Regions from separate parts of the Homo sapiens genome. Here region 1 is linked to region 2. A link means that fine-mapping ties the variant in region 2 to the expression of a gene that starts in the linked region. Tissue or cell type: hippocampus. Region 2 holds a variant in brackets; the other region holds the start of a gene. All regions are shown on one strand. Distances are from middle to middle.

Region 1 (8,105 bases), 710 kb after region 2:
CTAAAAAATGAGTGGTCCAGGTCTGTGATTAGGCATAAGATCCAAGGCATTCCCTCTTTCACTCTCCCTGCACATGCAAAACTGGGCTTGTATCAGATACTTGTAATACATAGTTAGAGGTGGTCCTTTTCAGTTTCATTTCATTTCCTATAGATAATCCGGCTTTCTAATTTGGTAGTTTGAAAGATAATGTAAAGGCTTTCTAATTTGGTGGTTTGAAAGATAATGTAAAATGAATGTATAGTACAGCTAGAAATGAAATACTTTAATCCCTTTCACAGAACTGATATGAAATTGTTGTTTTATAGTATTTGTTACCTTTGAAGTTCCCCAGAAGGAAAACTATTTTGCCTGGCACAAGATACATATTAAGTTTCTCTGAAAGATGAACAAAAATAACTAATATCAAAATCAAATTTCAACTCAAAAGGTTCTAAAAGTAGCTCGATTCTTTCCAGTCCTTCATTAGACTTGGAAGAAATTTGAATATTTTATCTACTATGAAATATTCTTGTGGATGTGTGTGTGTTTCAGTATCAGATGCTATTAGAGTTCCAGGATTTCTTTTCCATATCACCTAGATTTCACTCTGGATTATTTATTTCCTTATTTAAAAAGTCAAAGGTTTGACATTAAATGGTATATAATTTCCAGTGCTGTTTTCAAATTTTGTTAAGACACAGCCAAGTTTATCTTTCCTGCAGAGAAGGCTTTAAAATAAGCAATATTTCACTGCATCCATATGATGGCTTATCTAATGGGGGAGGAGGCTATCCGGGAGGAATCTGGCAGTGTTCTTTCAGAAATAAAAATGTATGAAATACAGAGGAGACTTTTGAAACTCCCAGCCTCTGCATGCAGCACATTTCTTTATTTGCTTTATATGCAATCACTGGATCGGCTTGTTTTTACCTTTTTAGCATTTATACACATTAAATCCTAGCTAACTTATTCATTATAGCCTCTACTCCCTAGCCCCCTTTAAAGACATTCATTTAAATGAACTGCGCTCACTGGGAAGCTGCATTTTCCTATCAAGGCTGCTGAATTATTTAGCAGCTTTATTGTGCAATCGGGGTATTTGATAAGAAGCGTTTTCGAGTTGGGCACACGATGTGGATTCGATTCTTCTAACAACGTGGTTGTGGCGCAGTCTCTCCCCTCGTCGCGGGATTCAGAATCCTGGCGAAAACCCGAACAGGTGGCAACGCTCAGCAGTCAAATTTGGAGCCGAAGGCCCCAAGGAGGAGGCCTGGAAATGTCAGGGCCTGTTCTCCTTCCCATCAGTGCTGTGCCGCCCACCTCTGGCCCCGAGGTGCGGGGACGTGCGGCACCATACCTAGGCGGAGCTCCCGCAGGAGGCGCAGCAGGAGGGAAGCGCCACTGCAGTCCCCTCTCGCCTGGGAGGGCAGCCTGGTTTCTCCCTGTGGCCATCTTAAAGCCACCACCTCTGTGCCTCTCGCCACCTGCCTTCAGGGTTCCAGCAGCAGGGAGCCACCATCTGCTCTGGCGAGGGAGCTGAAGCTCACCCACCCAACTTCTCCGGGCTGGCTGCCGCTGGTAAGCTGCTCTAGGTGAGGCACTTGGGGAAGTATTACCTGTGGAGAGCCAGGATAGGCATTGCCAGGGCTGGCACCTGAGGGTGGACAGCATCTGAAGAGAGGCAAGTGGGAACTTGGTTTTCCCAAACTCTTGAAACTCCTTGTCAAGTGAGCAGACAGTTGTTTGGGACAATTGGAAAGTGTCACCCCTTGCCCATCCTCTGCTGTGCCTAATCGCCTGCCACTTTGCAGCCCTTGGAGGGCAGGGAGAGGGATTGTGGACTGGGCGCCCCTCCGCCTTCTCTGGAGAAGGCCATTCTGTTAGGGAACTGCTCACCCTTATTCTCCTCTCCCTGTTCCTCTCATCTGCTCTCATCTCTACATCAGTCAGAGGTTGAAACTCCTCGCCACAGTCCACTCTCCATCTCCATCCCTACCCCATCAATAAGCCCTTCCCCCACCATCTCAAGACACTGGAATGCAGGTAGGGAGAGGCCCCCAGAGGGAGTATTTGAGAATTTGCTCCCCTGTCCCTTGCCTCAACTACTCTCAGTTGCATCTTAATTCCTAGAATTACTTCCTCTTCCCTCCACTCCTGGAGTCCTCTTTCTACCTTCAGTATAAGGTCAGGCAAACATTTTGGGGGGCCCTGGGATGTGTGTGACAGTAGAACGGTCTTGATTCCTTGCTAAAATGGCTTCCCAAGTCAGTAGGGACCAGGACAGAGAAGGGAGAGTAAGTAAACAGGTCTATGGCATTTTCTGCTGAGTGTTTGCCCAGCACAGCCCCCAAATTGACCAGCAGTGTCCTGTTTGCATGACAGCTTAGAGGTGGTCTCTGCAGTGACTCACCTCCCTTTCTCTTTTCTTCCTTCTCTTTACCTCAAAGGCCAGGTTTCTAAGCATTGTAAGTACCCAACATAGCAAGGGGATAGGATTGCAGGAGGTAGTTTCTTAAATGTGGGGTGGGAGAAACATTTTTGTCCTTTGAAGCCCCATGGCACCTTGTCAAGGAGCAAGGAACACACTTTTGCTTGGGAGGCCCGGACACAGGCACAAGACTGCAATTATAGAGGATAAACGAAAAACTGTTCTCTTAGGCTAAGCTCTCTTATGGATGGTAAAAAGCCGTTTTCTTCTCCTGAGTGCCCTGCCTAGCCTGGCATTCTTTTCCTTCCATGTCTGAGGGGGTTTACCCTCAGACAGGTTCTCCTTCCCCTCTGCAGCCCTGGTTGTCTTCATTCTTCAAGGGCCACTTTACAGGGACATGGAACAGGCTCCACTAAAGTGGTGTCCTCTTATTGCTCTTGGCCCTGAGGACATATGAAGATTGTGAAAGTCAGAGATCCTCTCTTCCCTTGGTTTTCATGGGAGACAGTAGAGAGCTGAGGGTTCCCCAGTTGTTCAGCTGTGGGATCCAACTGGCCCGGGCTGTACCCAAGGGGCACTGCCACAGTGCACCACTAACATCTCTTTTCTGGATCCTTTTGAGGCAGATTCTGTTTAGAGGGGTCTAGGTCTCTACAGGCAACCTCCAACAGATACCATAAGAATAGACCACTTTGTAGTCACACTTATCATCCCTTATTGCAGTTTCTGTTTACATGTTTGTCTACCCTCCTAGGCTGATTACCGTGGGGGGGAGAATCCAACTTACTTATCTTGTATCTTATCTAGCAGTGCCTGCCACATAGTGGGCAGTCAGGGAATGCTTGATGAAGGAAAGAGGATGTAAAGCGATTGTGTCTTTCCGTGTGCGGGGTGCAATTACATTTATACTATTAAGTCTTTATATTTTGAGTCTGTCCCTCTAACGGTAGACCTGTATTTTTCTGCATTTGTGCACCTGCTTAAGCTGCCTGAGCATGCCCTCATCTCTGAACAGCAAAGATAATCAATACCGAGGGGTATGCAGTGGAGTAATCCACACCCCACCCCCTTTCCCTTGCTCAGGCAAGGGTACTTAGAGACGCTACTGAAACTATCTTTAGCCACAGCGATTCCTAAGTATTCCCATTAAGAAAGACGCCAGCAGTCCGCCACACACTTACACGTGCATATCCCTGACATAGGATTCCCAAATCCTGGCCGCTGAAGGGCGGGAGGCGTGTGCCCGGCCTCAGACTACTATAAATTGCGAAATGACAAACCTGCTTTGGGTCCCAGTCTCTGCGTGCCCGAGTGCGCACCCGCGATTCGAGCAGCTTAAGCCCTACTCCCTCCTCCTTCCCAAATCAGCCACCGTGGGCCACGGCTACGCTATGCTTTATTCCTAAGCGAATCTCGCACAAATCTCGAGGCATATTTTGTACAAGGGGACACTGGCCGCGCGCATCGCAATCGCATCTCAGCGACAGAAGCGGTCACGTGCCTTGGCGCGCTTCCGCACCGCCCCTTCCCGCGCACTCGCACGCGCACGCGCACACGCGCCCATACGGCTCCAATCCCTTCAACCTTCTGCGCGCTTCCGCCTTCATGCTAGCAACGCCCGCAGTGACGCGCAGGCCCCGCCCCCTCCCGCGCGCCTCCCGGAAGTGGCCGGTCCAGAGCTGTGGGGTGGCCTCCGCGCGGTCTCTGGCGGAGTCGGGGAATCGGATCAAGGCGAGAGGATCCGGCAGGGAAGGAGCTTCGGGGCCGGGGGTTGGGCCGCACATTTACGTGCGCGAAGCGGAGTGGACCGGGAGCTGGTGACGATGGCGGGGCCGCAGCCCCTGGCGCTGCAACTGGAACAGTTGTTGAACCCGCGACCAAGCGAGGCGGACCCTGAAGCGGACCCCGAGGAAGGTGAGGCCGGACTGGGGCAGGCCACGTGCGGAGCGGTGGGCCAGGCCCTGTGGGGCAAGGGGGCGGCGTGGGAGGGGCGTGCGCGAGGCCGCCGGGCCTGCGCTCCTTCGCTTGGCGCAGAGGAACGTCGCCTCCCGCGAGGGTGGTCCCGGCCTCGGGAGGAGGGCTTCGGCTTCTTTTCACACGCACTCGAAACTTGGTGCTCGGCTGGATGGGCGGAACAGATCGAGGGCTCAGGCCGAGAGGAGCTGGTCTTCAGGTTTACTTGCTCCAGGCCTGTTGGAGGGAGCCAGAGAGTCTGCTAGCAAGTTGGAAGTTAGCTTTGAGGATGCCCTTTCTGGTATTGCGTTAGAAAGGAGGAGAAGAAAGTCGCATGTTTTTAATTCAGGTTGCCCTTCAAAACTAAGTTGGAGACTGATGGAAGGATTTTCTGGTGCTGTTTAAGTCTCTTGAAGTCTCAAGACACTTGTTCAGTGGCTGACGACTGAGACTCCTGTTCTGTAAGCTGATGTTCAGAGTCTAGCTGGGAGTAATCCCGCTTTAGACTTGAGTCGGAAGTGTGAGAAAGGGATAATAAGGAGGGATAAATGCGAGTGCTGAACCGTATCTTAGGAAGATCAGTTGAAGAAACTCGGGACTGTTTAGCCAGAATAAGCAAAGAAAACTCCCCAAAGAATGGGACAGAGTGAGGGGAGAACGTGATGACTGATTTAAGATATTGGAGCGACTGTCACACATTGAAGAGGAATTCAACTAGTTTGATAGGATCCAAGTCATAGAAATAGATCCCACTAGTAGATGCCAGGAGTCAACTTTCTGTTTAGAAACAGCAGTAAGACAGTGTTCTACTTTGGGAGAGAGTGAATTTCCTATTCCTGGAAGTTGGTGGGGATTTCGTAAAGGACGTTCAACTATGAGATAAATGGGTCGACCAGGGTTCCCGTTAAAGTTTCTGCTAACCTGGAGATTCTGTTTACTTTTCCCTCTCCCCCGACAGCCACTGCTGCCAGGGTGATTGACAGGTTTGATGAAGGGGAAGATGGGGAAGGTGATTTCCTAGTAGTGGGTAGCATTAGAAAACTGGCATCAGCCTCCCTCTTGGACACGGACAAAAGGTATTGCGGCAAAACCACCTCTAGAAAAGCATGGAATGAAGACCATTGGGAGCAGACTCTGCCAGGATCGTCTGGTGAGTAGACATTTTTGAATGGAACTCTTCTCTTCCCTAATTTTTTCAGGGTTAAAATCCTCCGGTCATCCCCCATGATCTTTGCAAGAGTAGTCTGCGGATCTTTTTTTTGAGACAGAGTTTGGCTCTTGTTGCCCAGGCTGGAGTGTGATGGCGCCATCTCGGCTCACCGCAACCTCCACCTCTGGAGTTCAAGCGAGGCTCCTGCCTCAGCCTCCCGAGTAGCTGGGATTACAGGCATGCACCACCACGCCCGGCTAATTTTGTATTTTTAGTAGAGACGGGGTTTGTCCATGTTGGTCAGGCACCCCTATCTGTTATCTTAGGAGAGACCATTGATTTGGTATTAGAAAGGGTCTTAGAGGTTACTTCATTTCACTTCATAAGGAATCTAAAGCCCAGAGTGATTAAGTTGCTATACTCCTTATGTTCGGACTAATGGCTCACCCTACAGTGGAGTGACAGAGAAGGCAGTGCATTTTGGCTACTGGAGAGGGTTATGAGCTGAAAAACCACTGTGTCTGATGAACATGTTATCCTTGAATTGTGACCCCTGACCTTTGGTTTTCCAGGACTTGCATTGAAGCACTGTGTGATATTAGTTATTTGTGAAACTCATTTTTTGCCATTCTAAAAAATCACATAATCCTTCTCTTCCCTGCAAAAGAGTTAGGAGTCTGTGCGCTTATAGTTTTAAAGAATTGTAAATTTCTCAGAGTGGAAGAAGGGGCTAGATATGGTGATTATTGGGAGAATGTCATTTGTTTTCCTTTAGAAAGGTCAGGGGTGTCATGTTGAGAATCCACAGATAATATAAAAGGAACTATCATTTAGGTTATGATATCTATGATTTAGTCCTTGATGTAGTTCTGGGAGCTCCTGATAAGCTCATTTCATATTCTTTGCCTAGAGACTGATAAAGGGACCAATCATGAGACAAATATGATAATATTTATTGAGTTCTTACCATGCGTCAGGCACTGAGTTTAGCTCTATAATTTAAGTTCTAAGAGCCTGGGACACAGTAAGTCCTCAAAAAAAAAATTATAAAATTACCTGGAATTAGACAGATTTTTATAAAAAATTATCACCATTATCACTACATGTGTCACCTAATTTAATCCTCCCAATTGCGCAGGAAGTTATTACTACTTAGCCCCATTTTACAGATAAGGAAATCGAGGGGCAAATTGGTTACATAAGTTTGCTCAAGGTCATATAGTTAGTAAGTGGAAGAAACATGATTCAAATGTAGGCTGTCTGACTCCAAGATGTACACTCTAGTAAACTCTGTATGAATGTTTCTTAATCTGAGAAATGGCGTACATTCAAAGAATTTAAATAATAATTTCTGTTTACTGTTTTGGCACTTAGTTTTTGTATTTATATTTTTGGCAGCTTTGTGTCTTAAGTTTATATATACCTTTTTAAAGAAGCGCTGAAGACCTGTCACGCTTTCCTAAAATCTTTATTTTATTGAAGAAAGTTTTTGGAAACTGGTCCCTCTATCTTAGAATCATACTTGAAACACATGGGGCTTTTATGTTCTACCATGGAACAGATTGGATAAACTGTAAAAACCTCTACATATCAGATGATACTCTAAGCATAAGTCAAACAAAGAGCCTTAACTAGCACTCTGTCTACTATAGGATCAAGTTCAGAGTCCTCATGAAAGACGAGACCTTTCCTGATTAGTCTCATCTCCCATCACTTCCTTGTGCATCCTGCACTCCAGTGCGTTTTCCCTTCATTATCTATGAGCTGTTGCCTTATGCTTCATAAGTAAAATTATAATGTCTCCTTCTCCACATGATACCATCCCCCACCTTTCCAGGAGAGTTAGGTGGTTCCATCTCCATACACTGTGTACTAATGACCTTGTAATATAATTATTGGCATGCATATCTACCACTCCCACCAGACCATGAACTCCTCCCAGCAAGTATTAAATTCTATTTGCCTTTCCTTAGCCCCTGGCTCATAATGAGTGCTTAATAAGTATTTAGTAAATAGGGCAGACGGATGTGATAGATTGTACATTTTTTCAGATCAGGTTTGGGAAAACTGGTAATTCTCTAACACCAGTTGAAATCTTACTGTTCTTCAAGGGCCAGAGCAAATGCTAGCTCTTCCTTAGAGATTAGCTTAAATTCACTTGCCCCACAGTTAAAATTTCTCACTCTTCTGGGTTATTGAAATTTTGTCAAAGCACTTCTGATGCTTCCTTGAGTTGTAATGTTGTGAGTCTGTCTTTCCCACTAGCTCCTTTTGTTAGGGTAGGACCCGTGTTCTATTCATCTTTGCTTCTCCCTTAGCATTTTGGAGATTGTAGATGTGTAATAAATATATTGTTGAATTGAGTGCAGTAAGAGATTTTCCCCCTGATGCCACAGTGCTTAAGTTGAAATGAAGTCTATGGCTTGGTATTTTCTCCAGGTAATACCCATTTTTCTCTTTCTTCCCTCTCTTCTTTGTAGATGAGGAAATATCTGATGAGGAAGGGTCTGGAGATGAAGATTCAGAGGGACTGGGTCTGGAGGAATATGATGAGGACGACCTGGGTGCTGCTGAGGAACAGGAGTGTGGTGA
Region 2 (8,105 bases):
ACCGCTTTACCCAGGAGAGTTGCTGTAAAGATCTAATAACATGACACATATAACCACACCCCTAAAGAATGAGGTGTTACCGCATGTTCTCACTCATAGGTGGGAATTGAACAATGAGAACACATGGACACAGGAAGGGGAACATCACACTCTGGGGACTGTTGCGGGGTGTGGGGAGGGGGGAGGGATAGCATTAGGAGATATACCTAATGCTAAATGACGAGTTAATGGGTGCAGCACACCAGCATGGCACATGTATACATATGTAACTAACCTGCACATTGTGCACATGTACCCTACAACTTAAAGTGTAATAATAATAAAATAATAAAATTAAAAAAAGAAATTTTGCTTAAATAAATATTATAATAAAAAAAACGAATGAGGTGTTATTAAAATGTTTGCAAGAGAAACCCTAGTAATTCCAAGCACATATTTTAGGAATGGTTTCTTGTGTAGAAAATCCTGGAATGTGAGGCTCTGCTGATTTTTTTAATGCATATTCTCTTCTTATGTATGCGGAATTTTTTTTTTTTTTTGAGATAGAGCCTTGCTCTGTTGCCCAGGCTGGAATGCACTGGCACGATCTTGGCTCACTGCAACTGCCACCTCCTGGTTTCAAGTGATTCTCCTGCCTCAGCCTCCCGAGTAGATGGAATTACAGGCGTGTGCCACCGCACTTGGCTAATATTTGTATTTTTAGTAGAGATGGGGTTTCACCATATTGGCCAGGCTGTTCTAGAACTCCTGACCTTGTGATCCACCCACTTCAGCCTCCCAAAGTGCTGGGATTACAGGCATGAGCCACTGTACCTGGCCTATTTTTGTTTTTACTAATGTTTCAAGAGACCCACTTTATGTACAGAATTCTGGCTACAACCTAACAAATGAGTTGCTCTGTTCATCAGTTATAGCCAATTTAAGTAATTATGAAAAGCTCAACAATACTTTAACTGGCAATGAAAGCGTCAATATCTCACATTTACCACCACAACTTAGGATTTCTTGGTAGCTAAATAAAATGCTTCTATTTTGTGGGGGGAAACTGTCACATAAGTTGAAATTCTGCAATGTTCAATTGATGAAAAGGTCTCTATGTTAAATCAAAGGTATAAATTCCACATCAGTAGTACATGAAAGAGAAAAAAAAAGCCAAAATTAAAGTGATCCATGCCCACTTCCCTGAGTGAACCTAAGATTTTACTAACAGAGATGCCGTAACTTTGATCATGCACACATCAAACTTGAATTTAAAAACATGCATGCACTCACTCATCTTTTATCTCTTATGTAATTAATACTGTAAGATTATATTTTGCCTACGTGCTCTATATTACTAATTTATAGGATTATTACTATTCAGTGTTGTTTACTTGAAACCATACTGTACTATACACAACTTTTGCATTCCATGCTAACTTTATTTTTTTAACTAATTTTTTTTTATACAGAGTCTCACTCACTCTATTGGCCAGGCTGGAGTGCAGTGGCACGATCTTGGCTCCTGCAACCTCTGCCTCTCGGGTTCAAGTCATTCTCCTGCCTCAGCCTCCCAAGTAGTTGGTACCACAGGTACATGCCACCACACCCGGCTAATTTTTGTATTTTTGGTAGAGATGGGGTTTCACCATGTGGGCCAGGCTGGTCTCGAACTCCTGACCTCAAGGTTATAGGCGTGAGCCACGATGTCCCAACTCCATGCTAACTTTAGAGCTTATTTCCCATCCCATAAGATACAACACTACTTGTGTTATATAGTGAGCAGTGTGGGGAAGAAAAGCATAGAATTAAGTTAGTGACAAATCCAGTGAACTCAAAAAGAGGGAAAAAACCACTCCCAAACAATTGTTTTCCCCATATTCTATTCTCCCTAGAGGTAGTCCATACAGGAACGACAAAAGAAAAAAAAGGATACAAAATGAGAAAGATGTTCATGTGACATATAAGTACAGTAATAAAATCAACAAGCATATATGGTATTTAAGCAAAATAGTATGTATGCATTGATGGTCATCTGATATAAATCCATCATTTCTGTTGGCCAACATCTAAAACCTTCACTTTTCTGAGGAGACAAGCTATAAATCTATACGGATATTTCTACAATGAGAATTCATTATTACATATGAACCAATATAATTTGATGTCAAATATTCACAATTAGGTTTAAAAAATCCCCTACTTGGCCGGGCGCAGTGGCTCATGCCTGTAATCCCAGCACTTTGGGAGGCCAAGGCGGGTGGATCATGAGGTCAAGAAACCAAGACCATCCTGGCCAACATGGTGAAGCCCTGTCTCTACTAAAAATACAAAAATTAACTGGGCGTGGTGGCAGGCGCCTGTAGTCCCAGCTACTCAGGAGGCTGAGGCAGGACAATCACTTGAACCCAGGAGGCAGAGGTTGCAGTGAGCTGAGATCGCGCCACTGCACCCCAGCCTGACGACAGAGTGAGACTCAGTCTCAAAAAAAAAAAAAAATCCCCTACTTATGTTAAGAGTACCAAAAATAGGGCCAGGAATGATGGCTCATGCCTATAATTTTGGCACTTTGGGAAGCCGAGGTGGGAAGATAGCTTGAGTCCAGGAGTAAAATAGTGAGACTCTGTCTCTACAAAAAAATAAAAAATTAGCTGGATGGGGCACACACCTGTAGTCCAGGTACTCACGAGGCTGAAATGGGTGGATCACTTGAGCCTGGGAGGTCAAGGCTGTAGTGAACTGTGATCACACCACTACACCCTACACCCAGCCTGGGCTACAAGGTGAGACCCTGTCTCAAAAAAAAAAAAAAAAAAGGTACCAAAAATCTATAGCTGTTTCAGGAATAAAATACATGTAGTTAGTGAGGTTTTTCTCTCCCACTGCTATGACTTAATTTTTGGTTGAGATGCTAAGCCAAACATCATTTTAAGTCTGTGGCCCAACCAAAAAAGGGAATCATACTCTCCAAAGAATTGTACATTCCCACTCTAATTGCTAAAATAAAATGTTGGATTATGAAAATCAATTTTATAGGTATCAATAAGTTATAAGAGCATGGCTTATTTAAAAAAAAAAGTGGGCCAGGTTACCTACATGAGCTGCAAAGCAAGCAAACTGAATTTTCTTATCGAAGAGCCCATCCTCATACTTAAAATTTCCCATGACTACATGGAAATTCTTTCACTTACCAAAAAGACCTGATTGGCACTTTCACTGAGAGTTGCGTCATCTGGGCTGTCGACAGGTGTCTGACGTGTAAACTTGGAATCAAACTGACTTACATCCTCTTCAGATTGCTTTATACAAACAAAATAATTTAGAAAATAATGAATAGTCCATATGACATCAATTAAATGCACTGTAAGCTCTGGGAGCTCTTTT[C/T]GCAGGGGTTAACTATAATAAAGTATTAGAATAGTCTTAGCAGGCACTTTTCTAATAGTGGAGAAATGCAAGTGGAAGAAAAAAATGCAAGTGGAAAGTACTGAGTCAAATTACATCTTCAAATCTTAAACATGCACTAAAAAAGATTTTAGTATACTGTTATTCCTATTAAAAATGTGAATATATTGACTGGGCATGATGGCTCAGGCCTGTAATCCCAGCACTTTGGGAGGCTGAGGCAGGCAGATCCTGAGGTCAGGAGTTCAAGACCAGCCTGGCCAATAAAGCGAAACCCCGTCTCTACTAAAACTACAAAACATCAGCCGGGCGTGGTGGCGGGCGCCTGTAATCCTAGCTACTCGGGAGGCTGAGGCAGGAGAATTGCTTGAACCTGGGAGGCAGAGGTTGCCGCAAGCAGAGATCGTGCCACTGCACACCAGCCCAGGTGACAGTGCGAGAGTCTGTCTCAATTAAAAAAAAAAAAAGAAAAGAATATATCGAGCTCAAAACAAGCTGGAAAAAATGTGAATATCAATTTCCCCTCTCACAAAGCTTCAGTGTGCCTAGTCCACTGGCTAAATCCCTGTTTAGAGATAATTAATTCAGTTGGCTACTGCAGGTTTGTAATAAACCTGAAAAACTACTGAAGCAGAGTTAAAACATGAATAATACTGGTAAGATGCTCCAGTTAAAGTTTCTTCTCACAGCTCATTTCATTCCTTCAGAAATCTAAAGGAGCAAAAATAATTTTCTATTCCGCATGGGTTATAAGTTATATTTCCTTGTGAAAGTATAGTTATCACTTCAGTTCTAACCATGAGATTTATTTATTTAATTCCTTCTCTCTTTCCCAAAATATCTGGTTAAACTCTTGGGCCAAATGTAAGAAGTAAATAATAATTTAGAATATCTGACTTAATACTAAAAGATGATGACCACATTGACCTTATAATTCTCTTAGAGCCCAGACTGTGAACCTGCACTCCCTGGAGGAATGGCTGATTCCAAGTGTGGGGAAAATGTACAAGATAAGCATAGAACACCAGTTTCCTTATTTTGCTCTCTCGTACAACACCAGACAATGTGCTCATGTCAAAAGGACTCAGAACCCAACATGAAGATGCACCCAGCATTCACTGCACCCAGCATTCAACGAAGGGAAAAAACGAGCACCAATAAAAATAACTGCTAGGTGCGGTGGCTCACGCCTATCATCCCAACACTTTGGGAGGCAGAGGCAGGTGGATTGCTTTTGAGCTCAGGATTTGAAGACCAGCCTGGTGAACACGGCAAAACCCCGTCTCTACCAGAAACACAAAAATTAGCTGGGCATGGTGGTGTACCTGTGGTCCCAGCTACTCAAGAGGGTGAGGTGGGAGGATTGCTGGAGGTCGGGATGTCAAGCCTGCAGTGGGCAGCGATTATACCACTGCACTACAGCTTGGGTGACAGAGTTAAGACCCTGCCTGAAAACAATAAATGAATAAATAAAAATAAAATAAAAATAACTGCGATGAAAGGAAACACAAATATGTTAAAACGTGTAAGTTCATAATATACTAAAAAAGAAAAAAACACACACACAAAGTTCATTGGTCAATTTTGGAAGATGCTAGGAAACTAATTCATTATTTTGAAAACTAGGAAAGAATCAAACATACATCCTGCCTTTTCTGTATGAACTGTACCTTGGGTAACTAACTGATCAAAGAGTTTCTCTTTATGAAAGAATTCCAGCTAACAAAGAAAGAAGAAATAACAGTTAGAATAAAACCATTTCACAAACACCTGATGAAACTACAAAAGTAGGCCAGAGTTTCTCAACCTCAGGGCTACTGACATTTTAGGCCTATTAATACTTTGCGTTAGGGGGCTGTGCTGTGCTGACTCTTACCCCTGAAGGTACCTATAGCATTCCCTCTCCCAAGCTGTGACAGTGTGTCTCCAGACATTGCCAAATTACCCTGGTAGTGAAATGCTGACACAGGCAGTGACCACTAACATCACTAAAAAAACACACATACGCACACACAAGTACACATTATGCCTCCTGATCAAAGCATATGCGATACTGAGAGTGTAATCTGAATCAGATCAACCACCTAAATTTAACTACCAGTTTTTGGAAATTTGGGGAACAGATGAACATGGTCAATGACACTCTGGGGATAATATCAGCAAAATCAAAATTTGAGAATTCTACAGGACAAATGACCCCGTTTCTTCAGTAAATCACGAGGGGAATCTATAAAGGAAAAGAGACCTAAGAGACATAGTAACCAAACTACATACAGACCTTGATTAACAGGAGGAAAAAAAAGAATGGAACAACAACAACAAAAAAATTAGGTGGGGCAACACAGGGAGACCTCATCTCTAGAAAAATTCAAAAAATTGGATGTGGTGATGCACCCCTGTGGTCCCAGCTATATGGGAGGATCCCTTGAGCCTGGGAAGCTGAGGCTGCCATGAGCCACTATCATGCCACTGCACTCCAGCCTGGGCAACAGAGAAAGACCCTATCTCAAAAAAAAAAGAGAAAAAAAAAAAACTGGGGAAACTGTCAACTTCTTAGGTGTGATGATGGGATGACAGTTATGTTTAAAGAAGATGATCTAATTATTTTTAAGCTGGGCAGTAGGTGTATGACAGTTCTCCTCCTTACAATTGTTTGTTGTTTTTTAAAGTGGGTCACATTATGGGGCATGACCAAAAAATAATCACCATCATCATCCTCCTCCTTCTCCACCTACAGCCCAAGGAATGGAAAAAGAAACTGTGTTTTCTCAGATTCTGAGGTGGCAGAAAGACAATAACACACTAACTCATTTACTCATAAACATATTGTTATGGATTGAATCGTGTCCCTTACTCACCCCCCAGAAAATTTCGTATGTTGAAACTCTAACCTCTAGTTCCTCAGAATGTGACCTTATTTGGAAAGGGTTATTGCAGATGTAATTAGTGAAGATGAGGTCCTACTGGAGTAGAGAGGAACCCTAATCCAATATGCCTGGTATCCTTATAAAAAGGGGAAATTTGGCCACAGATACGCACACAGGTAGAACACCATGTGAACATGAAGGCAGAGATCCAGGTGATGCACCTACAAGCCAAAGTATGCCAAAGATGACCAGCAAACCACCAGAAGCCAGGGGAGAGGCATGGAACATAAGGTTTCTCACAGTTGTCGAAGAAACCAACTCTAACAACGTGATCTAGAACTTCTAGTCTCCAGATCTATGAGATAATAAATTTCTGTTGTCTAAGCCACCCAGTTTGTGGTACTTTGTTGCAGCAAGCCTAGCAAACTAATGCACACATATTCTATATTTTGAAGAAAAAATTCCCAGAGAATCATATTTAAAATGGTTAAATTAAGCAAAATAAAACAAACCAAAAAAAGAAAAGTCCCAACTACCTGAAATATTTAATTGTCTTAGGAAACTGACTTAAAAATATCTAATACAGGCCGGGCACGGTGGCTCACGCCTGTAATCCCAGAACTTTGGGAGGCCGAGGTGGGTGGATCACAAGGTCAGGAGTTCAAGACCAGCCTGGCCAAGATGATGAAATCCTGTGTCTACTAAAAATACAAAAATTTGCTGGGCATGGTGGCAGGTGTCTGTAATCCCAGCTACTCAGGAGGCAGAGGCAGAGATTTGCTTGAACCCAGGAGGTGGAGGCTGCAGTGATCCGAGATCACACCACTGCACTCCAGCCTGGGGGACAGATCAAGACTCCATCTCAAAAATAAAAAAATAAAAATAAAGAAGAAAAACGCTATGGAATTTGACTAGAATTAGGGCTAACAATATGAAGCACTTTGGGAAGCCAAGGCAGGTGGATCACCATGTCGGCCAGGAGTTTGAGACCAGCCTGGCCAACATGGTGAAACCTCATCTTTACTAAAAATACAAGAATTAGCCAGGTATGGTGGTGAGCACCTGTACTCCCAGTTACTCCAGAGGCTGAGGCACGAGAATCACTGGAACCCGGGAAGCAGAGGTTGCAGTGAGCTGAGGCAGCCTGGTGTCCAAGCTGTGGTGAGCCATGACCATACCACTGCACTCAAGTCTGGGCAACAGAGGAAGTCCCTGTCTCAAAAAAAAAAAAAAAAAAAAAAAAGGGCCAGGTGCAGTGGCTCACACCTGTAATCCCAGCATTTTAGGAGGCTGAGGCGGGCAGATCATGAGGTCAGGAGTTGAAGACCAGCCTGGCCAACATAGTGAAACCCCATCCCTACTAAAAATACAAAAATCAGCCGAGTGTGGTGGCATGTACCTGTAATCCCAGCTACTCAGGAGGTTGAGGCAGAAGAATTGCTTGAACCTGGGAGGCGGAGGTTGCAGTGAGCCAAGACCACATCATTGCACTCCAGCCTGGGCAACAGAGTGAACCTCCATCTCAAAAAAAAAAAAAAAAAAAATTTAAAAAGGGAGTATAGGGCCAGCCGCGGTGGCTCACGCCTGTAATCCTAGCACTTTGGGAGGCTGAGGTGGCTGGATCATGGGGTCAAGAGATCAAGACCATCCTGGCCAACATGGTGAGACCCCATCTCTAATAAAAATACAAAAAATTAGCTGGACACAGTGGCGAATGACTGTAGTCCCAGCTAATCTGGAGGCTGAGACAGGAGGATCGCCTGAACCTCGGAGGTGGAAGTTGCAGTGAGCTGAGACCATACCACTGCACTCCGGCCTGGTGACAAAGCGAGACTTCGTCTCAAAAAAAAAAAAAAA

Evidence for each region. PIP is the estimated chance that this variant, and not a neighbour inherited with it, causes the effect.
Region 1: it holds the start of AATF, and the variant in region 2 is fine-mapped to the expression of AATF in hippocampus (GTEx, PIP above 0.99).

The regions. Positions count from the first base shown.
Region 1 is chr17:36,944,893-36,952,997 of GRCh38, forward strand. It overlaps AATF (apoptosis antagonizing transcription factor), which reads left to right and starts at 4,062. Exons shown (of 12, transcript NM_012138.4): 1 at 4,062-4,324; 2 at 5,322-5,513; 3 at 7,994-8,105. The coding sequence starts at 4,234.
Region 2 is chr17:36,231,277-36,239,381 of GRCh38, forward strand. It overlaps LOC105371747 (a long non-coding RNA gene), which reads right to left and starts at 6,531. Exons shown (of 3, transcript XR_934703.3): 1 at 6,273-6,531; 2 at 3,171-3,278. The variant C/T (reference allele first, on the strand shown) is at 3,364.